Linked DNA regions of Homo sapiens: regions 2, 3, 4 and 5 are each linked to region 1. Evidence: fine-mapped QTL for protein levels in blood plasma. Region 1 holds a variant in brackets. A gene starts in each other region. All regions are shown on their forward strands.

Region 1 (4,917 bases):
TCATCCTGGAAGCGCTGTGAATTCAGAGATTCTGTATCTGTTTACACATACTCTATAGGGTATTGTAGAACACCAGGCCTGGAGAAAGTGCTCAGCACATAGTTTTTGAGTGAAAAGTGATAGGTCATTCTCCCTAGCATGCTTTCAAGGAAATAGCCCTCTAAAATAAATTTGTTATTATTTGGGGAATAAAGCATATTTAAACATAATATCCACCCTAGTATATGAATAATAATTCTACTATATTTAATGTATTAGTTATTTGAGGCTACTAGGACAACCACTTAGGTTTTGCAGATATTCGCATCATGATTGTGAGTCTAGGTGAGTTTGACTTGGTCAAGCTGAGTTTAGTAGGCTCAAATGGATGTAGAGATGGGGAAGCAATAAACCTGCTCAGATTAGAAAGCAGAATTAGTATGATTGTCCATCATATACTCTTTGCTTCCTGATTTCGGCATCAAATATAAGGCAATTAGACAATCTGGTGGAGAAACGAACAGAATGCAGCAAGACATCCAGAAATAATTCATTAGGAAAGATGCCTGGTATTTTGAATACTTTTCTTGTAGTGCACCAAACAAAATGGTAACCTGATAACCTAGAAGAGTCATTGATTACCCCAGGAACTCGACCTGTCTTTTATGAGGAACTGGGTAATGCCTATTTGTGTAAATGAGCAGTACCAAAAGCAACAAATTATGACATCACTTTTTACCCTGTAAATTTAAACCATGACAAATCGTTAATTTACAATAAAAAAAAAACAAAATCAAAGATTCTTTGCAATGGTGTCTATTTATAACATTAACACAAGCTGAAATTTATAAATCCTTCTATTTCATACATTCACAGTTCAGAAACAGCTGCAGAAGATTCTCCCAAGATGAAGCACTGTATGGCAAGATGTAGCCCAGACTGAATTTTTATGGTTGAGTTATAAAGCTCTGACAATTGCAGCCTGTATGGAGGGGGTGATAGACCCTTGACAATGGTAGTTCTGGCAGCAGATTTAATACTGGTTATTTCCTCTGCTTATGACATTAATGCAGCATTGTTAATATCTGATTAGCATTAGTCAAGTAGAAAGACTTTCCTGAATAAAAATTCTTTCCTGGCAAGGCATTCAAAAGCACATCAATACTAATACCACCTGACTTGGCATATTATATATATGGGTAGGATTGCTATTTTATATATATAAAACATGTGTACCTGGATGTATATCATCTATCTTCACATATAATATGCCATATATATTTATATACATATATATACATATATGTGCTTAGGCAGGTATCAAGTTCATGCTTCTCATTTTCAAAAATTTTTCTGATGTGACCAGGGCTAGTCAATACACTGATCAGAAAGAAGAACCTTTTATATAATCAAAAGACAGAAAAATAAGATGAAGTACATGGTATTTAGACATGTTTTGGTAACACAAACCATTCTACTTATAATTAGACCTTGCAGTATACTTCCTACCATCAAACGGCATGCAGGATATTTGATTTCAAGCCAAGGCTAACATGACAATCATGTTATTATCTTTTTTATTTTTTCAAGCAAAGAAAGTTCATGTTCTCTCTTCTGTGTCTTCTTTCAAAATATTTCTTTCAAGATTACAACTTAGAGGAAAATAATTTGAAACAGTTTTGCTCTTAGTAAAGCACAGAGAGTGACTGTCAGCAAGGTAAGTGTCATCCATATTTTAGCCAATATTTACATTCAGATTTCATTAGTTTAAACAGATATATTCCAAATACTATATAAGAAATATAGTCCAATTTGCTTGTGATTCATAACTCACTACTAGTGTGAGTTTTTATGTCTTAAAAATGAGATAGCTTGCAAATGTGAAGATGATTTATTCAACGCAAAGATAATTGTTGTACTCCCCTTCACATATGATCTACGGTTAGGTCTGCCTTATACTGTTTGCTGTCTATTATATACATGTCACTATCTAGACTTACAAACAATTCCATTTGGTTACTCTGGTTAAAGCATTTATTTTCTTCAACAGTCATGAGTAATGCTTATCATTCAGTGTATTATGTGATTAGGCTACTAGAACATTTACTAATCCCCCAAAACACACACACATATACACACATGTGCGTGCATACACACACACACACACATACACATCCTCTGCAGGATATAAATAAAATAGCAATCCTCCCCTACACATGTACCTGGATGTATATCATCTATCTTCACAGTATATGATTAAATAGCTAAAATTACCATACCTATTGGACCTGGAAATCCTC[G/A]TGGACCACTTTCTCCAGTGGGACCTCGATCTCCTTTTTCACCCGGGGGTCCAGGAGGACCTTTAAAAAAATTACAGTTACTGATCATAGTTGTAAAGCATAGGAAAAATGGGTTAGTCATCTGTCAAGGTACTTATATAAGGAAATCCAAAGTCTTCTATTTGTTGTGCAATAATATAGAATGTATAATACTGAACTTCATGAATGGAGGAGTATTCTGCTATTCAGGAATATAATGCCCTATACTAATGAGGATGACATTGCCTCAAAGTAAACAACCTAACAGTATATTAAATGTGAGTGTGCCTAACACTTTTCTATGTTCTGAGAACCTGGGGGCAGAGAAAAGACAGCAGGCTGGCACAAAGTCACATTAGTGTTGTACGCATCCTAGGCAGTTAGACATAGAGTTAGATATAATACAGAATTAGCTACTATACGGAAAATCTATAAGTAAGAACTTAAAAGACATTTGTGATACCCTCAAGGGAAAGGAAAATTCACACATGGTAGACAACCAGAAAGCACTTTGTTGGAACTGACCATAAACTCAGATATTTGTCAGTGAACTGTAGATCGGCGTGAATGGTGATGGTTGAAGTCTTCATTGAGAAAGTAGGATATGAGGGGTACTTTCAAGAATGAAGGGAAGGGGAAGGAAGACAATTCCTAGGGATTGAGAAAGGCATGAGGAAAGGCAGGAAGGTGAAAATGAGTAGAGGAATTCTTTTTTCAAGTAAAATATTAAGTAGAATTTCTAGGTTGCTATAAATACTGTAAACAAAATGGAGACATTGCAAGGAAAACTTTGGTCTCATCATTTTTTTTCAGGTGGCTCTCCTGAGAGCTGTAACTAAACAACCCTGATTTAGCCATTTGTATTTTCTGTGTCCAGCAAAACAGATACCTGCTCATCATGCCTTTAAAATGATTATACCTAGCATGTCTTTAGAACTCAAAGGTAATCCTACCTAAACACCATGTTCCATATGGAGTACAGAGGACAAATAATCTCTTCTTTATCTAAAGAAGAGCACTTAGTTTCCTTTTCAACACCAGAAGAAAGAAACAGAAAGAAACATTATTCCATAGATTCACCACAGAATAAGGAAATAGTGATATTTTAAAGGAAGCATTTTCAATTGCTAGTTTGGACACATACATAGTCCAAGGAAAACAAATATATACAGCATCCCTGGTTAGAATGCACTTGTTTACAAATTTTAATCAGGTGGGAGACATAATACCCGAAGAAATCTAAGAGGGGGAACCACATAAATAAATAAAGATTATCTCATGAATAAGTATATTTTGTACATTTTGTTGTTGCTTATTTTGACATCCTTGACTCTACTTCTGTCTATTCCTCTGGTATGTCCCATTTTCAAGGTACAATTTGGGTTTTAGAGGCCCAAGATATCATTATTACTCTTCTCAATAGAATGTCCCTTTCTCCTCATATGCAACATTGGACACACATTTAATTGTATTTTTATTATAAAAGCAACTCTACTTATAGGAAACATAAAAGCCTAGAAAAAGCGTGAGGAAGAATATAATTCGTAGTTGTGTTATTTTAACTAAAGATCTTTACCATTTCTTTCCTAAGTGTGTACGTGTATTTTTTTTTTCCACATAATCGTCATGCAAACAACATGTTACAGGGCTTTTAGAAATTAACTGGTGTATTATATTCTAAGGTATAGCTTAATTGCTGCGAGACATATATTTAAATGCTGCACAAGAAATGTAAGATTTCTGTATCAAAGGGAATCTCTATGTGCCCCCTATTCCCTGCAGAAGAATGTAGTACTTCCCAAGAAAATGGAGTTATGGTAACTTCCATAACCATGAACGCAGCTGCATCCATTCAACACTACATAGCAATGAATCCCAGGGGAGGGGGGCAAGCAGGACAGACACTCAATTTATGCCTGAATTTTGTTGAGCTAATTGAAGGGAAGCACAGGGATAGTAATCAAGGATGGTATTTTGAAAAAAGTGCGCAAGCAAAGATTTCAGTTTAGTAACTCAGGATCCAAAGCAAGACGCAGACATTCCAGGAAAAACTAGAACATGAAACAAGAAGAAACAAGGGACACAGAGAATAGATCTAGACTCTTAGCCTCTGAGATGGACTTCTCACCATTTCTTTGGTAAGTAAGAGATGGAAGGAACTCTCCTAATTACTAACTATCCTTTCAATTATATTACATGTAATTATGGGAACTGTATACTTAATTTTGGAGTATTAGTTCAATCACAGCGAATAGATCAGTATTATTTTACAAAATTTGGAGTTAAAGATCCCTCTCTGTATTTTTATATAAAAATACTGATACCTGGTATTCGAATCCTACAATAAGAAAAACAGGTAAAGATTTTTGTTAGAGTTCTAACTAGGCATGTTGAATGTACCTTTTTATTGTCATTCTATTCTTCATGTAACATTAATCTCACATTATGTTTCATTTTTGTACATTGTTATAGATCTTTTACTGTTTCTAACAAAATGTTGGAAGGATCTCAATAAATGTTTTAAGTGTCTTTTAGATTCATTGGGGGAATAAAATAACAAATTATATACCACTTTACTCTTAGTTTCTGATGCAGAACTTTTAAGAACACTATCCACTAC
Region 2 (4,917 bases), not on the chromosome of region 1:
CGACTAAAATATTTCTATATGACAAATAGAAATATTTGTCTCTTAACTGGAAAATGTGTTTCATTAATATTTATGGTAATTATTGGTATATTTTGATTTAATTTTAGCAAATAATATTGTACTTTTAACTTATCCTTCTCTGTGCTTTTCTTTCCTCCTTCATTAATTTTTTTTTCATAGATCAAGTCTTTCTTTAAAAATTCCCCCTGCACCTTCTATTCGGATGCCTATGTCCATTTGGTAGTTGTCCTTAAACTTATAACAAATATTTTTGAGCAAAGCAAAATTAATTAATTTCTTTTTCGTCCTCCTGAACAATGAAATGATTTTAGAATCCTATTACTGAACATAAAAGCAGCACATTTTAGATTATTTCCTTATATCTGTCTTCCAGTTCATTAATATTCTTTTCAGCTTTGCCTAATTTGCCACTTAATCCATGCCTTGAGCTTTTAAAATTTTCAATTAACTTTTTTTTTTAATTCTAGAAGTTTTATTTGGTTCTTTAAAAAAAATCACCTAGCCTTTTTCTTTTTGACAATGTCTTATTCTTTTCTCATATTTCCAATTCCTTCTTTTAGAGCTTCAGTAGTTTTAAACATATTTATTTTCTAGTTTTTTGGCTGATATTTCAACTAAATGCAGTTCTTGGGGAGAGGTGTCTAATCCTTTTTGGTTTCTGCTGATTCTCATTTATAGTGGTTTGCTTCCTCATATGTTCAAATATCATTGTGAATTCTTTTTTGTTTTCACAGTGGCAGATAGTATATATTTGAATTCTAAACATATCTGAGGGCAGGCCCAATTTCACAAACTCAAAGGGACCTTGTAGAGTTCAAAGAGAGACATGATTGCTTCCTACCTCTTTGTGCTAGGGCAGAGTGGGATTGTACCTACTGAAATACAGTAGGTAACCCTGTGAGGGTCCTGGCTTTCATGAGGATCTCCCTTCTAACTCTCCACCTTTGGCCTAAGCTTTGCTTCCACATGGTCATCAACATTTGGTGGTTATAGAACTAATAACCCCTATCTCACTTCACTCCTATGCCAGAGGGGCCCTAGCATCAGCTCATGGGATTGTTGTTTTTGCTTTCCTCTCTATCTTTGGCTCCGGGATTTTCCCCTTACTTTAATGGGAGCTCATCTGTACCTTTTAAGTTTTTATTAATATCATGTGAACACAGACCTGTATATATTGTTAGAAGCAGAAATCTCTAAGTTTACTTTTAAAACATGATCCTTGCCTCGAAACCTTGTAGAATAATATAATGTCCACATAATACCAAGTTATGAAAAGAAACATACCTAAATAACTAAATAAGTATATTCCTTTTTTCCCCCAGCTTTTTTTCCCCATTCTAGGTTTACCCAGTTGTACTGTGTTGTTTGTCATAGGCCGGGTGAGGTGGCTCACGTCTGTAATCCTAGCAATTTGGGAGGCGAAGGCGGGTGGATCGCCTGAGGTCAGGAGTTCGAGACCAGCCTGGCTAACATGGTGAAACCCTGTCTCTACTAAAAATACAAAAATTAACTGGGTGTGGTGGCGGGTGCCTGTAATTCCAGCTACTTGGGAAGCTGAGGTAGGAGAATCGCTTGAACCCAGGATGCGGAGGTTGCAGTGAGCCGAGATCACACCATTGCACTCCAGCCTGGGCAACAAGAGCGAAATTCAGTCTCAAAAAAAAAAATTATCTATAAAAGTATAGGTGCAACTCCTCAAGTATTAAAGACAAGATAGCTCGGATTGGACTTGACTTTCAGAGCCATAACTATTCTTAATATGTTGGTTTATCTTGGAATCAGACCATTTTCAGTTTCAACCTGTAAAACAGTGTACAAAGGAAACATGGAAAGTTTTCTATATATAAAGGGTTGTGAAATAATAACAGCTCACAGAAAATGCTGAAATGATGATTTGCTTCAGTACCCTCTGAAATTTCTCCCCTACCACCCCTCCTTCATCCCCATTGCTATCAATTCAAATTACAACAGCTAATTCTCAGGAGAACAGTAGAAGCCCAGTTTCTCTCCTCTTTCCCCTCTGACCCTCCTCCAATTAATCTGACTGCAGCGTAAACCTTTGCGGTTTAATATTGTGCAACTTCCACATTTCCCTCGCTCTCCCACCCAGCCCCCTCCCCCACCAAATTCAGGGGAACTCCCGTTACCGCAGTGCCACCAGCATTACTCATTCATCCCCATTCAGGCTTTCCTCAGCATTTATTAAGGACTCTCTGCTCCAGCCTCTCACTCTCACTCTCCTCCGCTCAAACTCAGCTCACTTGAGAGTCTCCTCCCGCCAGCTGTGGAAAGAACTTTGCGTCTCTCCAGCAATGCATCTCCTTGCGATTCTGTTTTGTGCTCTCTGGTCTGCAGTGTTGGCCGAGAACTCGGATGATTATGATCTCATGTATGTGAATTTGGACAACGAAATAGACAATGGACTCCATCCCACTGAGGACCGTAAGTTCACTTTAACTGTTTCTCTGCTAACCCTGACTACATATCCACCTCTTGGTCTAAATAACACACATATACTTTGTGGCCAGTGAGACAAGTTAAAAATTTATAGCTTGTTATGCAAAAGTGAGAAGCACTTGAAGAAAGATGGAGGTTTCAAAGTTATTTCTGTAACGTACATAATGGGTTGAATCATATCAAATCGTCAATATTTGACTGTTTTGAGCTACATAACCGGCGATTTCATAGGGTACAACTTAATCTATACCTGAATGAATGATTTCTGTCGTTTCTGAGACATTTACATGCTGTTTTTCGGAGGTGTCCTTAAAGGGAAGGGGAATGCCAGGAACGGGCTGCAACTTGGCACCACCGAGGGAGGTCAGCTTTTACAAAGCACATCCAAGGCAGGCCTGGGCGGGCTGCTAACGTGTGTGTATCCCGTACTCTAGCCACGCCGTGCGCCTGCGGTCAGGAGCACTCGGAATGGGACAAGCTCTTCATCATGCTGGAGAACTCGCAGATGAGAGAGCGCATGCTGCTGCAAGCCACGGACGACGTCCTGCGGGGCGAGCTGCAGAGGCTGCGGGAGGAGCTGGGCCGGCTCGCGGAAAGCCTGGCGAGGCCGTGCGCGCCGGGGGCTCCCGCAGAGGCCAGGCTGACCAGTGCTCTGGACGAGCTGCTGCAGGCGACCCGCGACGCGGGCCGCAGGCTGGCGCGTATGGAGGGCGCGGAGGCGCAGCGCCCAGAGGAGGCGGGGCGCGCCCTGGCCGCGGTGCTAGAGGAGCTGCGGCAGACGCGAGCCGACCTGCACGCGGTGCAGGGCTGGGCTGCCCGGAGCTGGCTGCCGGCAGGTAAGGAGGCAAGCGGGGCCGGGACCTCCCACTGCGGCTTTGTTCCGGGAGCGCGCGTAACGGCAAGCCAAGCCAGGCAACCTTCTAGGGGAAGCTTTCATGGGAAGCGCGCGCGCGCGCGCGCACACACACACACACACACACACACACACACACACCCCTATTTCTGCATGCGCGGTCACAGAGCTCAGGCACACCATACAAGGCGGGAAAATTGGCTTTAAAAAAGTATTCCTCAGTCCTAAGGAGCCCTAAAGAGAGTTGTGGAGGTAACCATCACAGTCTTGAAATAGACGTCTAGGGCCCCTTACACCCGATCCGACTAAGCGCTGCAGGAGTCCACTGGCCCGTTATAACCGTGATCCCTCTTGCCGCCCAGCTTCCCTCCGTTAGGGATTTCCACGTCTTCTAATTTTATCCTGCCTCTGTCTTTAGAGGAGCTCTGGTTTCCCGCACTATTTCAGGGCCCAGGCTAACGTTTAGGGATGTTTTCCAGCCCCTCAGCCGGCCCCTCCTCTCCGCCCACCCATTCTCAGCAAGAAACTTGAGGCTAAAGCTAATCTCCCGAAGGGTCAGCGGAATTCTTCAGGGGTCCCCCAGCCCCCGGGGTTTGTGGAATTAGCGCGACAGGGGAGGTCGGAGGGTGTGCGGTTTGGGATTCAGCGTGGAACAGTCAGGTGTAGGAGCCAATCCGTGTAGGGGATCCCAGCTCCACCCCAGGGATTCAGAGAATTGGGGCCAAGCAGGAGAGAGACTGTTCAAACCACAGGCAACTTCTCAAAGTCCCATGTGACACTCCATGAATCTCCAAACAGACATGGGTTCCCAAAATAATACATTCTAAAGATGGTTAAAAGAAAGAAATAGAAGATTTGGAGCCAATCAATACTCCTTTGTATGCCAAAACTTCTAAGAAATGGTGGTGTGACAATCATTTTGGATTGTATTAGAAAATCAGTGTCCTAGGTAAGAAAATATAACTTGCACTTTTCCTGAGAATCCTTCCCTGTATTTCCAAGAAAACAACTTTTGCTGGATGGGGAGGGGGAAGAAGCATGTTTCATTTAAAGTTAAAGAATTTTATGTAATGAGAGCATGTTTCATTTAAAGTTACAGAAACCATATCATATTTCCTAAATATTTGAGGGGTGCTTGTCAGTAAATACTAAATAGGGCTTCAGAGGAGAAAAAGCATAAAATCAAATGTACACTAGATTCTCAATGTGACAGGAGAGAAATTAGAATTCTGCAGCCATTTTAATGGATGAAATGTCTTGTGTTTCGCAAACCACGTAAAGTCATTGTACATATAATGCACCTGAAAAACCGAAGAATTACTCTATTTTTTATCTTCATCTTTGCATATTAGTTAGAGCAGAAGAGGGATGCATTTCTGAATTCTAAGATGTTAATCCTTATTACATCCAATAATACTTTTACCCATATGCTTTGATTTATCTTCTCTTGGTCTCCAGCCAGCTTGGCTCCTAACCATTCTGTTGTTAGCCTCCTAAGAACCTGGTTTTAATTTTGTTTGGTCTTTGATAATCAGAAAAACCTATTAGTTAAAAGCCATTTCATAAGAGAGTTTCTGACATTTTAA
Region 3 (4,000 bases), not on the chromosome of region 1:
AGCCTGGTGACAGAGCAAGACTCTGTCTCAAAAACAAAACAAAACAAAAACAAACAAACAATTCGAAGATCCCCACCTCCCACAAGGCCTTGACAGTTGTTAATCCTATGATTTCCATTTTCCCCTGATCAGTGCTTCTCTGACAGAGTTGCTATAATTTATGAGAAAAATATCATTGGTCCTAAAGGAATGAGAACTTTGAAGTGGCTAATGGTTTTGTGTTAACTGCCGCTGACAAATCATTTTACGATGTAAGTCCCCAAAGTGTTTTCTGGCTCATAAACTAACAGTTTAAGATTTGAGACTGCTTTCTAATAAATTAAAATTTTATAAGCAATTTTTTTTGTCGGAGGACACACAAAATCTTTCATTTTTCTCATCAAAAACTTTGGGAGAGTAAAGCAAAAAGAAGACTCTAGGAACTAATTTGGGAAAGATTCGTTTCTTTGTTTTAAAGGTAAAAGCATGTGAAAAGCAAATATAAGCAGTTTTTAAACTTAAGAGGAAATGACAGGTAATTCTATTAGAAAAATGGTGTATGTATTTTTACTTACTAATGCAAAGTTTAACAATTACCACTTCATGTATTAAAAGATACTAACTATGGGGCTTGTTGTCACTTACCTTCAGGTTTACTCTCGCAGTTAAAACCTCGGCTTCCTCCATAACAAGTACAAACCAACGCATTGCCTAGGTAGGTCCGCTCCCACTGTTGATTTATCTGATAGTGTTTTCCATTGTCATAACAACCGGCTGCAAATAATTGAAGGAAAACGTTACATTTGCATTTCTCCTTTTCCCAAAATTATGGAATTTTCTTCATGTGAATATTGACGTACATATTTTTTTCCTTTTAACTTTGCTAAAAGTTATATACAATGATGTCATTTCCATCTGGCCAGGGGTCTACATAAAAAAGTTGGAAACATTTTGGAAGGCAGACAATTGAAGTCACATTTTTAAAACATGCAAGGAACTTAAATATTCTTTTGGAGTAATAGTCAAAAAGGACAACTTTAAGCAGCTTTCTCAAAGCAAAAGGAGGGTGTGTCTTTGAAAAACGGAAAGAATTCCAACCTCTGTTCTTGGTGAAGTATCCTGAGCGGCCCTAAAGAGGTCTGAACCAATTACATCTCTTCCAAGTTAGTTAGAAACAAGACAGCTATTTCAATACCCCCTTTCCACCCCCATGTTGAAAATATTTGACCAATTATTTAACAGAAGGAAATAAGTAGCAGTAAGGACCACACTAATCCCAGACGGAAAATTTATAGACATGCATCATTTTTCTCTTTAAAGGCAAGTTTTGGTTAATTCCTAGAAGGACAATCTGAACGTGCAGAATTTATTAGAACACGGGAAAGTCGCAGAGTCCTCGTCCTCCAATGCACGGTCTTATCATCCCAGGCCCTCAGAACCAGCGTGCTCAAAACTCGGTCCTTTTGTGTGCACAGCTGGTTTCTCTCAGTAAAGCGCGCACACACTCGCACACACGCGCGCGCACAAAACTTCAGCCCCAACTTTGGTCGGCTTTAGGGTCCCATCCCTGAGGCAGCCTGTTTCAGCCCGCGGTCAGTACTCACGCTTGCTTTGACTGACAGCCACCGGGGACTGGGGCTGAACCATTTGCTGAGCCTGCCTCTTGCTCTTCGAGGCTCCCGTGGAGGGCACCGCTGTCCCCAGGCACTGGACGGCCAGCAGCAGCAGCCCGGGCCCCGGACCCCTAAGCATGTTGAGACGGTGGGGGAGAGACGCCCGCACCGGGAGGCAAGTTGCCACCAAGTTTGCTTCCCTTCGCAACCTGCGGGAAAAATCCCTTCTAATGCCTCCCGGGGGTTGTCGCCTCCAAGAAGGTGGGGGCCAGAGGGTGGGGAAGGGGACGGGTGGAGGGACAGAAGGGATGCAGAGGACCAGAGAAGTTGTGGCTGCAGGTCCCCTCTTCCCGCTCGCGCCTGGGGTTCCCTCTCCTCCCCCTGTGCAGCACAGCCGGCGCGGGCGTCCGAGCGCCGGGAGCCGGGGCTTATATGGGACGGTCCCCTCCCGCCCCTCTGGAGGCCCGGGGCGCGGGGGAGGAGAGACCCGCCGGGCTGTCCCCGCCCCGCCCCACCCCACCCGCCCGCCCGCCCGCCGGCCGCCGCAGCCGACCGCGCGCCGATTGGCCCGGGCTCCGGGTGACGTCACGGGGGACTGTGGGTTCGCAGCGAACAAAAGAGATGCTGATGGCCCGCCAGGACTGGGGCAAGACAACTTTTTTTCGGTTTCCTTTGCGGTCATCAAACTTTTTAGGGGATGGGGGAAGGGATGGGAAGCGGCTGGGAGGAAAGGGAGTGGCTGGACTTGTGTGAAGCGAAGGGGTTGCAAGACGCTCCCCCTTCCCTTTTCTTTTTTATTGGGGGTGGTGGTAGTGTTTGAGGACATTGCGTCACCTCTCTTCGGGGTGGAGGGGGGGAATCTCTGCTTATAGGAGTGTATTTTGTGAGGAAGAAAACCCATAAAATATCCACGACCTTGCAGCTGTTAAGAATCCAGACTTTTCAGTCCCAGGGCGGGGCTGCCTTTCCCCCCATCCCGCTCCCTTTCTTTGGACTAAAGGGTACTGACTCGGGACTCCCTTATTTTGTCTTCACAGCTCCCTGTTCGGACTTCTTCCCTTCTCAGCGCTGTGCCTGTCTGGCTCTGAGAAAGGGCCAGCGGGCGAACGGGGAGCAAAGGGGAACAGAGACCTTTAATGAGCTTCTACTAAGTACCGGGAGTTCCGCGGGGCGCTTTGCAGATCCCGGGGAAGTTCAGAGAATGAAGTTTTCTTTTGCAAGGACAAAGTAACAGTTTACTTTTTTACACATGCAGGAAAGCCTTCCTTTCCTGGGGATGGGACGCCCGTTTCCACTGAAAGTGAAATCACTGTGAACAACCTGAAAATTGGAAAGTTGGACCAGCTGTGGGGAGAGAAAGGTCTTCGTGTCCTTTCCCACGTTCACCGTGCCAGTTACACACAAAGCAGAGATTTTTTTGCTTGAATCATTAAAAGCCGGGTGGGTGGGGGGCACCCTATGTACTGTCTTGCCCTCCTTCGGCCCCTTTCTCACATTTATTTGCCATTTTCTTTTTGCTGACAAGTTCCATTACAGAATGCCCCCTCCATCCCCCGCCGCCAGATTTTTTATATTTCAATTGTTATTTACTCCAAGAGTGTGGAAAGTTCTCCTTTAAGATTCCCCCGCCTTGAACTCTAAACTCAGAGTGGAAAGGGAATCTGAAAAGTCTCTCATTTAGCAACACATCACATCAGTCCTTTTTGTCAGATAAACACAGGCACAATTGCTTTTAAAGATCTTCAGAAGGAGGAGTCCACCACTTCCACAGTAGATCCAGAGAGACCCGAACTGAATGCTTTGCCTTCTCCTTGTGTTAGGAGTTCAGAGGTTCCATTTGCTTTAAAACACAAGAAGCTACTAATAAAATATATTTATTTCGGCAAGGTACCTATTTTCTCCAAAAGTTTCACCTTCAGTAATTGCCACAGGAGTAATTAGAACTCTGTGTTCTATAAAATGCCTGACACATTAAAGACACAAAATTAGCATTTGTTTTTATTCATGCAAGGATTTAAAACCAAACCAAAACAAAGCAAAACACCCAGCAAATATCAGTTTCCTACAAATAGTGTAAAAAAACCTCTTGAGGAATCTTTGTGACCCACACTCCAAATTGAAAGAGTGCCATGGATTTCCCCAAATTTAGAATCCTGTCTGGGTTAGAGGATTTTTTTGGAATTTCTCATCACTTGACAAAACAGTTTTCTCTTTTCAAATATAAAAGAGCTCCTTGTAAAATGCTTGGTAAATTTCTGGGAAGCCGAGTGTTTCTTCCAGAGGGAAGGATACCTGGAAATCCGGATGTAAGCAAGATAAACCTGTAGCTAAAGCTTTCTTAAAATTCATTGATTCTGGGGGAAGGAAATAAGTGATTAGAAAAGTATTTGGTCAACCAAAACCATGAT
Region 4 (4,917 bases), not on the chromosome of region 1:
GACATTTAAAATACAAGTATAAACAGCAGAAGCTTCAAATTTCTTTCTCTTTATTCCTTCAGTGTTGGGAATTGCTACTTCTACATAATCAGTTTAGTTAAAATTGTAAAACGAAATTGAGGTAAGGAAGTGAGAGAGTTTGGACTCAGGGAACAGAGAATTTAAACTTCCAAACACTTAGAGAAAAGACATTTTCCAGCAAAAATTTTAGTGAAAGGTCAGCTTGGGTTTCAGAAGAAGCTGAAATTTATCCCCCAGCACCAAAATTCTAAGAGGGCTGACTTAGTTTTCCATACTGCCCTGATCCACTGTTTGCAATATATCTTAGGCTTCAAATTGGAACCCATAAAAATACATCTGTCAATAAATTTTAAAAGAAAAAAAGAAACCTCAAGGCAATGGGGTTATTTTCTTCCCGAACACCATTGGCTTATACAGACTTTTTCTTTCGTTTCTGTAGCTCTCGTTCAAACCTGAAAAATAACAAAGTTGTAAAGCATTGATTGAGGTACATATAGGATTGTCAGTCCTTAGCCTAAGCTTCTAATGCAGAAAACAGCGAAAGGATCTCTCAAGGCCTCTACAGTTTGACGCCAGAGAGTAAGACTCTTGATATGAAGTGGATGATGAGTTGGAACAGCTGTCCCTTCATCCAAAGATGTTTGCCATGTAAACCAATACCCTGCAGTGGCTGGTTTTGTTAAGCTAGCGAAACTGCCACTCCTCAGGCAAATGAAGCCCAGTAGAACAGGATAAATATAGGAACGTAGAGCAGCGTATCTTCTTTTTCACACTAATATATTTAGAGAAAAATATCAAAGGCAAAAAAATGTTAGACAAGAGAGCCAATTCAGTCAAGCAATAAATTGGTTAGCAAAGGACTTGACTCTAATCACACACGGTACATAGCAGATATTAGTAGGGCCTTAGTAGGGCAATGGGGTTAAACTCTCCTAGCCATATTTCTACCACTAATTTCCTCAGTTATGGCCCAAACCTTTGAAAAATACTTCGAGGGAAGTTGTGGAGCATCTCCTGAAAGAGTATTACAGAAAAAGTCATAAACTGGCCTTACCTTCAATCTACCAAATAAATTTCCTCAGCAGCAAAGCCTCTCCCAACTCTCCCCTCCTGAGAACCCCAGGCAAAAGCCAGCGTGATGCCTGGGCTCCGAATTATCATGTGGCAAGAGCAACCAATCAGATCTTGAGTTGCTCAAATTTCAGAAGCTAAATTTACCAAGTGATCTTCTGAAAACCACCTGTTCATCAATTCCACTAAAGGATAAAGGGTAACAAATTGCTTGCTTAGAACAATTCAAATGGAATCAAATTTTACCTAACTTCCAGCCTGTGCAGTTCAATTTTAGGTTGAATTTCCCATTTACTGAGGCCCCATTCAATGTCATATTCATGCAAAAGAATTTAGTAGAAAATAAGCATGACTTTGAGAGGCTTTAACCCTTCCGTGACTGCTTTCTTCATGTCATTTGTCCAGTCATGGTGGTAAATGTACTCACTCTGGTAAGGTTCACCAGGTGAGCTACAGGTAAGTTACTGGTGCTAGTGTGAAAGAAACTGAGGAATAAGACCCAGTAAACATCAAGTTGACAAAAGCAATTTTTAAAAATGTGATGAGTGAAGTTAAAGGTGAAAATATTTGACAATGGCACTAAATAAGATATCCACAGGGTGTAATTAGAAAGATTAGACCCCATCATTTTTCTGTTACTAAACCAAGAGGGTATACCAAAATCCTATTTAGCACCTTCTCCCTCCTTAGATAAGGCAAGCTGCTAGGAATACAGAACCTCTCTCATATGTAACCGAGTTAGTGATTTTTCTATTAACTCAGATGACTCCTGGCTCCCAGAAGCAACGTGTGAATGCGGACACAAACAGGCTCAATTTCTGAACAGCAAGAGCAGATAACATGGAAATCAGTAACTTATCAGGAGAAAATAATGCCCTATTTGGCAAATCCGAACGTAAGACATTTCCTTCATAAAAATTATCTAACCATTTTCTTAAAACTTGCCTGATGTCTTTCTTGCACTTTCTTTGCTCCTGAAGTATTTTTTCTAATTTAAAATCTAATTCTATCTGTCTGTCTGTCTGTCCTTACACACAGCGACAGAAATCACAGGCTCTTATGTGACAGAGAACTGCTCTTTCTCTGGGTTGCTCCTGTATTCAGGCAAAACCCTGTGAGTCACCTATATCTTGATATGGATTTGAGATTAAACATATTGTAATATTTTTTCTTTTTTAAGTTAAACATTAGAAAGTAATCTCGCTGGGCGTGGTGGCTCACGCCTGTAATCCCAACACTTTGGGAGGCCGAGGCGGGCAGATTGTCTGAGGCCAGGAGTTTGAGAAAGTAATCTCATATTTCAAATACATGTACCTTTTCCCCCTCCATGATTCACATGGTAGTAAATAAAATCTAACAGAATTTTATCATCTTAACTGATTATACCTGTTCATCTTGTATGTTCTCACAGGTCTTATGACCAAAGGATATTTATGTAATATGAGATCACTCACTTGGTAGCTGCAAACTAGAATTGTGACTTACTAGTCATTACATGCTTTAAAATGTGTTGTTGAATTAAAAAATAATACAGGCCCATACTTTAAAAACATAGAGTACAAAATTATATAAAGTAAAAAATGAGCATTGACCTTCTTAGTCATTTTTAAGTTTCAGATATTTTCAATATAGATATTGACATAAATCGATATACTTAATATGCAATAGACATTTTTATGAAACATCACATAAACATATCCTACTCTAATTTCCACAAATAATTCTATTGATTGGATAGAGTATAATAGTTTAATCATTATTAATGGACATCTAGGTTGTTTCGAGGTTTTTGCTATTACAAAATAAAGCAAAACAATGCGAAACAAAACACACAGTAAGCATCCCTGTACATTACCTTTGTATACTTATATGAAATGTATCTGTAAGGTAAATTTCTAGAAATAGAAATACTGAGGCAGAAGATATATGCACATTTTGAAAATTGATAGATATTGTCAAGTTGCCAGTCAAAATCCTTACACTATTTTATGTTTCACTAACAGAGAATGAGGGTTCCTATGTATACACATCTCAATATCCTTAGGGATTATTAGACTGAAAAATCATTACTATCTGAGCTGAATGTGTCCCCCCAAAATTTATATGTTGAAGTCCTACCCCCCGATGTGTGGAAAGTGATTGGGTCATAAGGGTGGAGCCCTCACGAATGGGATTAGTACACTTATGAAAGAGGCCCCAGAGAGCTGCCTGGCACTCTCTCTGCCATGTGAAGTTACAGGGGGATGATGGCCAGCCACAACCTGAAAGAAAGTCCTCACTAGAACCCAACCATGCCAGCACCCTGATCTTAGACATCCAGCCTCTAGAACTATGAGAAGTAAATTTCTGTTTATAAGCCATCCAGCTTATATTATTTCTGTTATAGCAGACCAAATGGACTAAGACACTCTTTATACATTACTTTTGAAACCACTATGATAGTAAATAGAAGTGCTACAGATGAGCAGAACCTCAAACTCCATTCATAATGAAGTGTGCATCTAAAAAGTTAGGGTGGGGGGTGGGGCAAGAGTGAGTTCACATGAAATTACCCTGGCTTAGATCTCTTGGGATAAATTCCTCCTAAAAGAAAGCCCCAAAGCCCCTGCTAAACTGGCCTGCTGCAGGTTGCCCTAATAATTTGCAAAGCCATCAGAAGTAAGAGACTCACAGGAGAGCTGGTTATATTCCTACCATGGTTACACAGGGGTGAGTGAACCAGCAAGCAGCTTATATTTACCTCCTAGTCACACTAGAGAAAAACACTGCCACCTCCTTACTAAATTCTGCAGATTCTAATCTGGAATGATGCCCTCTAGAGATGAAAGAACAGCTTTATTTTCCTGGCCTATCTATGACCTCTTCTGTGGAACGACAGTACATTGGCACCCTGATTTATTGGTAGGTTCTTATTATATGCCTTGCACATGGTAAGTGTTCAGTAAATGTTAGCTATTATTATTTTTACTATTATCATTTTTTACATTATATTGGAAGCTTCACGCTTTATTCTGTATTTAACTGAAATACCAAATATCTTGAAGCTTCTAAAATCAGACAATAGTTAGTCTAAGAATTTATGAGTACGCAGGCATCTGACTAGAAGCTTGTACAACTGGCTACAAACCAAAGCAGGGCAGTTAGGTGCCAATATCGGAACTTCAGATAAGGCTTCCCTAAATATGAAAATATAGAAGTGTCATGCCTGGAGACCAAAAAAGACATGATAAGGGGAGATGGGATTGTAACAGTTTTTGTTGTCATTACTTTGATTTCAGTATTTTGATCAACCTCTATATGAACATAGCTTAAGAATCAAGCTTAAGTTTCATAAGACTTGCTACTAAATCAACATTTCCTGTTTCCTCTATTCCTTTTTCCCCTCCCTGGAGACATCACTTGGACTCATTTAGCTGAATCTTTTGTTATATTCCTTTACACATTTAACAAAATGTCTACATTGCTCCTTCCTGATTTTTCATTCATAGGCATCATTTATTAAGCTCCTATCCGGGAAGATGAGGCTTTAATTCTCTTTCATCTAAACCACAAGCCTCACCTCCTGCACCTCAATAAAGTTCTACACATATAATTCAGAACTCAATGTTTACATTTTTATGATTAGCAAAAGGCTATTCACAGCTGAACCCTATAAATTATGATTATTTTTCTTTTCCTCTACAAGGGCTTGTTTTTCTGGAAGTTGGTATTTTTCTCCATTTCTTTTATTTTCTTCCTTGGCTTAATTTTTTTCTAGACAAGTGGTGTCTGAGAGAGCTTTCTGCAATAGTTGAAATGTTCTATACCAGCACTGTCCAGTACAGT
Region 5 (4,917 bases), not on the chromosome of region 1:
GCAAATACTCAAAGCAAGTAAGAAATGAGGGAACTAGGCGGTAGCCAGGAAGGAGAGAACCAGAAACAGAAACAGCTACCCCATAAAAACCATGCCGCCCATGTATTGATCACTCTCTGTGGACCAGGTTCCTTTTGTATATGTTTTCTCATTTAGTCCTCAGAACTCCGTTAGTCAGGTGTCTGATTTTCACGGGAAGACCAGGCTCCAAGAGCTTAAATACCTCTCCCTAGGTACTAGGGTACCACGCAAAAAACTAGTAAGTAGTGGGGACTCACACCTACCTCTGTCTGACTGAAAGCTTTGCCCTTTCCTACCATCTAACTGCTTTGGTGCTCGCCCTGTCCTTTAATACTATTTTGGTGTTCACCACAAGAGGTGATGCAGGAAGAACAAGAACACTGAGGCTCTCCCTCTTTGGCAATGGCTGTAGGTGAGGGGCTGTGTTTGTCTTGTGTTGTGGGAAAGGGGGTGAAGGCCTAGCTGTGGTGGGAGGAGGTCACTGGGGAGGTAGAATGTTCCACTGTAAGAGGGTATTGTAAATAGGAAATGAGAGGGAAGGAGTGCAAGCTGGACACCTGGGTTCTCTTGGGAGGGGAGATGAGCAGAAGGGGAGGGGGAAGGGATGAGAGAGCTAGGTCCTGTTTTAGAAGAGGACTTTAGGGACTACAGGATCAGGCCAGGGGCCAGACAGACACCTAGGGGACCAGGAATGTGTGAAGTCCAGATGTTTTAGAGGAGTGTTTTAAAGGGAAATTTAGGGGAGGGGGGAGTAAAGAGAAGGTTAAATGCCAGACAACTAGATACTCTGATCTGCGGGAGGAGACCTCATCCCCTTCCTCCTTCCCTCTTTTCTACTCCATTAGGGCTGTGATAAGAAGTTTGAGGGAACCTGGGGGAGACCAGGCCTGGCAGAGGCTCCAGGCCAGGGTGATGATGCAATGGGGTTTGGGCAAAAGGCCAGGGGGGTGGGGTGGGGGTTGGGTGGGGACCTTGAATAGCCCAGAACAACAGTCGGGGCCTAATCATTTTTCTTTTCTCCCATCCCCAAGTCCTCCAGACAAAGGAGAATTTGCCTTTCTCCCCAGTTGTATTAGCTAGATTAACCCCTTTTCTCCAAAAACTATAGGGACTGAGTAGAGATCAGTTAACTGTCTCATGTGTAAAAACAGGTCGCTTCTGACAGAATTCCCCTCAAACCCTGAGATCCTGGGGTTGGGGTGGGGGTGAGCAGTAGGAAGCTCCCAGCTCAGAGATGTAGAAGAAAAAGGATTACACCAGTCATTGTGGAGGACCAGGAATCTGGCATCTATGGCCTAGCCCAGGAGCAACCACCTACCTCTCTTGCTTCCCAATCTCCCCGCCATCCCACATTTAAACAGACACCCTTGGTTCTAATGTTGCTTCCACTCTAACTCCTGTTTCCCAAGCCTGTCAGTACCCCATTTTCTAGGCACTCGGGGTCCGGGTCTGCTTATCACTGTGCTGAGTTGGGAATAAGGATCCTCCTTTGAGATTTCCAGGGTCCTGAGTCCTTCATTCTGACGTTCTTGGCCCCACGGAGCCCCCGTCTCCCCAGCTTCCGACCCCAGCCCCAGAAGTCCCGGTCTCAGCACAGCTCCAGCCGACCAGCTACAGGAAACCAGCTTTTCTCTTCCTCCCAAGAGCCAGAGGAAGAGGGAAACCGCCCACCCCCCTTCACGCGCGCACACACCCCTCCCGACACATCCCAGCACCCGCCCTTGGCTGAGTTCGCCCCCAGCCCCAGGGCCCCAGTGCCAGGGTCCCCGCACTCGCCCCCAGTTCTCGGATCCCCTCGCCTGAACAGAGATTGGGGGCGGAGGGAGGAGTAGGAGACAGAGGAGAAAGGAGAGGGAGCCGCCGTCCTCTCTCGGGTCTTTCCCCGGTCTGAGTTGAGGGGGGAGGGGAGGATGAGGCTGGCCCCCATTTAACCTTCCGACCCCCTCAGTCTTTGACTTTCCTCCTACTACACGTAGCTCATTCGGCTTCTACCCGTTCTCTCGCCGCACAATGGCCCCTACGGATCCCGAGGTCTCCTGGAGCCCCCAAAAGCCCTTCCCGGCCTCTGCGCCCCCTCTGCGCCCCCACCCGCCCCAGGTCCCAGCAGCCCACAGACTTCAGCCAGAGACCCTCAGCTCTCCATTCACGCGCTCTCCTCTCCCTTGGCCCGGAGACCCCTGCCCAGACTTCTCCAGCTCCGTGTCCTCTCCCCACCGGACACATGTCTCCCCACTGATCTCAAACGCCAGGGCCCCTCCTCACCCGCCACGGTGCCCTCCCTACTCCAGCGCGGGCCCCCAACTCTAGCCAGGGCCCCCAACTGCAGCTCTATTCCTTACAAACTCCACCCTCAAACTTAAGCCCTGGTCCCCTCCAGACCCCAGCCGCGCCCCCAGTCTCCAGGCGGCTCCCCCACCCCCATCCCGTCTCCAGCCCTCCTCACTCACCCGTCTGTTCCCGGCCGGTAAAACTCCACTGAGAATCCGAAGAAGGAGCCCGGGGGCCCCGAGAGTACTGCTGGGGCCTCCGCGTCTAAGTTGAAGCCCCCGACCCTGGGTGGCGGCGGCAGCAGCAGCAACAGCAGCGGCAGCAGCGGGGGTCGGCGCCGGGGGCCCCAGCGCAGCTGCACGGCGTGGAGAGGGGACTCTGGCGTCCGGCTCCCCATAGCGCCCGCTCTTCCCTGTCCTGGGGCCACCGACCCGGAGCCGCTTCCTAAACCTCCCAGAGGCGAATGACTCAACGCGGGGAGGAGTTTGCCAAACTCCCGGCTGAGCCCTCCCCCCGCCTGCCGAGGGGGCTGGCGGGGGGGCATTCCTGGGTCCCTGGAACTCTGAGCCCGCGTCCCCCACCCCTAAGGGGCGTGGGGGGGGGGCGCACCCCTCCAACCCCCTTTCCCCAGCCCCAGCTGGAAGCCGGTTGTCTGGACTGGGTTAGACTGGGCGGGTTTGGGTTCTTCCCCCTCCTCTCTGCTTCCCCCTCCTTCCTCCCCATTCCTTTCCAGATGTACAACGTAAACGCTCGGAAAACGAGTCGGAAAAGGGAGCGGAGAATTTCCTAATGAGGAAAGGAATCACCTCTGGTGGGCGGAGGAAGCCTGTATATGTGTGTGGGGTCTCCCTCAGTGCTTTAGGGAGGAGACTTTGGGGTCTAAAGAGACAGGAGACTCCTCTGGCGTCCGGCCAACTGGGATTCCCCCTTGCCTTCCGGGGCCGCCGGGTGCCTGGGTTCTGGCCAGCTGGATTTGGGACACAACAGTTGAGGTACAGAGACAGCGTTCGCAGTCAGCTTGCTAGAGGACCTACACGGGCTCCTCAAGTTCCGCTGCTTCCTCCTCCAAGCTTGCTAGTATTGAAAACCCAGGAGTTTGGGGTCATTCATCAGGAGGATTCTGCTCCAGTTTGCCCCCTTCTTGGTCCTAGGGTATGTAAACCTCTGCTGAGCCCCTTCCTTGGATCTGACAGTTGACCAAAAGCCTGCGAGTGGCTGGCCCCTCAGTACCTGCTTGATTAAACTGGCCGGGTTCCTACAAACCTGGAGAATTGTGAGAGGTGGTGGTGGTGGTGGAAAGTCTTGCAAAGGGACCCAACCTTCAGCTCCTAATGGCTGTAAACGCTGGGAGCTCTGGCCAGGCACGGTGGCTCACACCTGTAATCCCAGCACTTTGGGATGCCGAGGTGAGCAGATCACCTGAGGCCAGGAGTTCAAGACCAGCCTGGCCAACATGGCAAAACCCATCTCCACTAAAAATACAAAAATTATCCAGATGTGGTGGTCCGCACCTGTAATCCCAGCTACTCGGGAAGCTGAGGCAGGATAATTACTTGAACCCAGGAGGCAGAGACTGCAATGAGCCGCGATTGCACCACTGCACTCTAGCCTGGGTGACAGAGCAAGACTGTATCCAAAAAAAAAAAAAAAAAAAAAATCCAAAAACCAAAAACCAAAAAAACAATGGGAGCGGAAAGCCAGGACCCCATTCTTCCCAGATTCCCCTGTGGAAGTAGAGGAAGGGACTCTAGAAAGGGAAGGCAGTGACCCCCTGCCCACCTCTTCCCCAAGCTCAGGCTCTGTGTGATGAGATCACTTTTCAGGATTCTAGCCTTTATCTTAGTCTGGGGGAGGGGACTACAAGTCCTTTCAGTCTCTTTCCTCCAGGACTCCTCACTTTCCAGAATAATACCCTGTCAATAATATCCTGTCAACCCTGTCCCTTCTGTTCTCCAGTCCCCTGCCCCACTTCGGGCTGAAAGGCTCAGAATAAGAGTGCCCAGAGTCAATGTTTTTTTCCTGCCATGACTCTCCCCCTCACTCTGCTACTCCACTTCCTGTCCCAAATCACCCATCTGCTTTTTTAAAAGCCCCCCTCCAGAGCCAGCTGCAGCCCAAGGGAGAGGCTGGCTGGCCAGACTGTGGGGCAATGCTGGCCCGTATCCCATTCTCACATCTGCAAGTCCTGACCCTTTCTTAGGTGAGGAACCCAGGGAATCTCTGGGTCAGGATCTTTAAGCCCAGCATTGCCAAAAAGGCAACCTTTAGGTGAGAGCTACTCAAGCCATGGGCTGGGAACCCCCTTTGGGAGGAGAAGGGCTGAGGCCTGATTGCTTTTTAGCCCAGCAAAACACGTGTGTGAACCAAACACTCTCCTTTCTCAGTCTAGGCAAACTCTTTAGATTTTCCCAGGATTTGGGAGATTAGGGGTGGGGGTGGGGAGGGGTGCAGGGAAGGAGGTGTGTGACTCAGCTCCTCCCAGGAGCCTTGGTGGGGGACAGGGGACATAGCGTCCTGCCCCAGTCCTCCTCCCCACTCCACCCCTAGCCTTGGCCAACTCAAACAGGCCCCCTCCCTGTCCATTCCCTGCTCCTGTTTACACCGGGAGCCCCTTAGTCATTCTTTGGC

Which allele goes with the higher level. Positions count from the first base shown, and alleles are read on the strand shown. Strength reflects both the effect of a copy and how common the allele is.
For the plasma level of the protein whose gene starts at base 2,250 in region 2, G is the low allele of the variant in region 1 and A is the other (weak association).
As copies of G replace A in region 1, the plasma level of the protein whose gene starts at base 1,997 in region 3 goes down (weak association).
For the plasma level of the protein whose gene starts at base 1,154 in region 4, allele G in region 1 goes with a lower level than allele A (weak association).
As copies of A replace G in region 1, the plasma level of the protein whose gene starts at base 2,754 in region 5 goes up (weak association).

What was found. PIP is the posterior inclusion probability: the model's chance that the variant is causal. The UK Biobank Pharma Proteomics Project read protein levels with antibody pairs (Olink). The fine-mapping took linkage between variants from a reference panel, not from the people measured, so its PIPs are less certain.
Region 2: PTX3 starts here. The variant in region 1 is fine-mapped to the plasma level of the PTX3 protein (UK Biobank, PIP above 0.99).
Region 3: it holds the start of FN1, and the variant in region 1 is fine-mapped to the plasma level of the FN1 protein (UK Biobank, PIP above 0.99).
Region 4: it holds the start of NEB, and the variant in region 1 is fine-mapped to the plasma level of the NEB protein (UK Biobank, PIP above 0.99).
Region 5: ITGA5 starts here. The variant in region 1 is fine-mapped to the plasma level of the ITGA5 protein (UK Biobank, PIP above 0.99).

Annotation. Positions count from the first base shown.
Region 1 is chr8:16,152,806-16,157,722 of GRCh38, forward strand. It overlaps MSR1 (macrophage scavenger receptor 1), which reads right to left. Exons shown (of 10, transcript NM_138715.3): 6 at 2,259-2,339. Among named protein-coding and RNA genes, the nearest start is that of MSR1, 37 kb to the right of the region's middle. The variant G/A (reference allele first, on the strand shown) is at 2,280.
Region 2 is chr3:157,434,601-157,439,517 of GRCh38, forward strand. It overlaps PTX3 (pentraxin 3), which reads left to right and starts at 2,250. Exons shown (of 3, transcript NM_002852.4): 1 at 2,250-2,463; 2 at 2,913-3,314. The coding sequence starts at 2,334. All of the region lies in intron 4 of VEPH1 (ventricular zone expressed PH domain containing 1), which reads right to left.
Region 3 is chr2:215,434,072-215,438,071 of GRCh38, forward strand. It overlaps FN1 (fibronectin 1), which reads right to left and starts at 1,997. Exons shown (of 46, transcript NM_212482.4): 1 at 1,584-1,997; 2 at 625-753. The coding sequence starts at 1,731. FN1-DT (FN1 divergent transcript) reads left to right here and starts at 1,620. Exons shown (of 2, transcript NR_187198.1): 1 at 1,620-2,238; 2 at 2,848-4,000. RefSeq lists an enhancer at 1-508 and silencers at 2,021-2,080, 2,091-2,180.
Region 4 is chr2:151,733,323-151,738,239 of GRCh38, forward strand. NEB (nebulin) reads right to left here and starts at 1,154. Exons shown (of 182, transcript NM_001164508.2): 1 at 1,076-1,154; 2 at 390-473.
Region 5 is chr12:54,416,513-54,421,429 of GRCh38, forward strand. It overlaps ITGA5 (integrin subunit alpha 5), which reads right to left and starts at 2,754. Exons shown (of 30, transcript NM_002205.5): 1 at 2,469-2,754. The coding sequence starts at 2,686. All of the region lies in intron 2 of GPR84-AS1 (GPR84, ZNF385A, ITGA5 and GTSF1 antisense RNA 1), which reads left to right.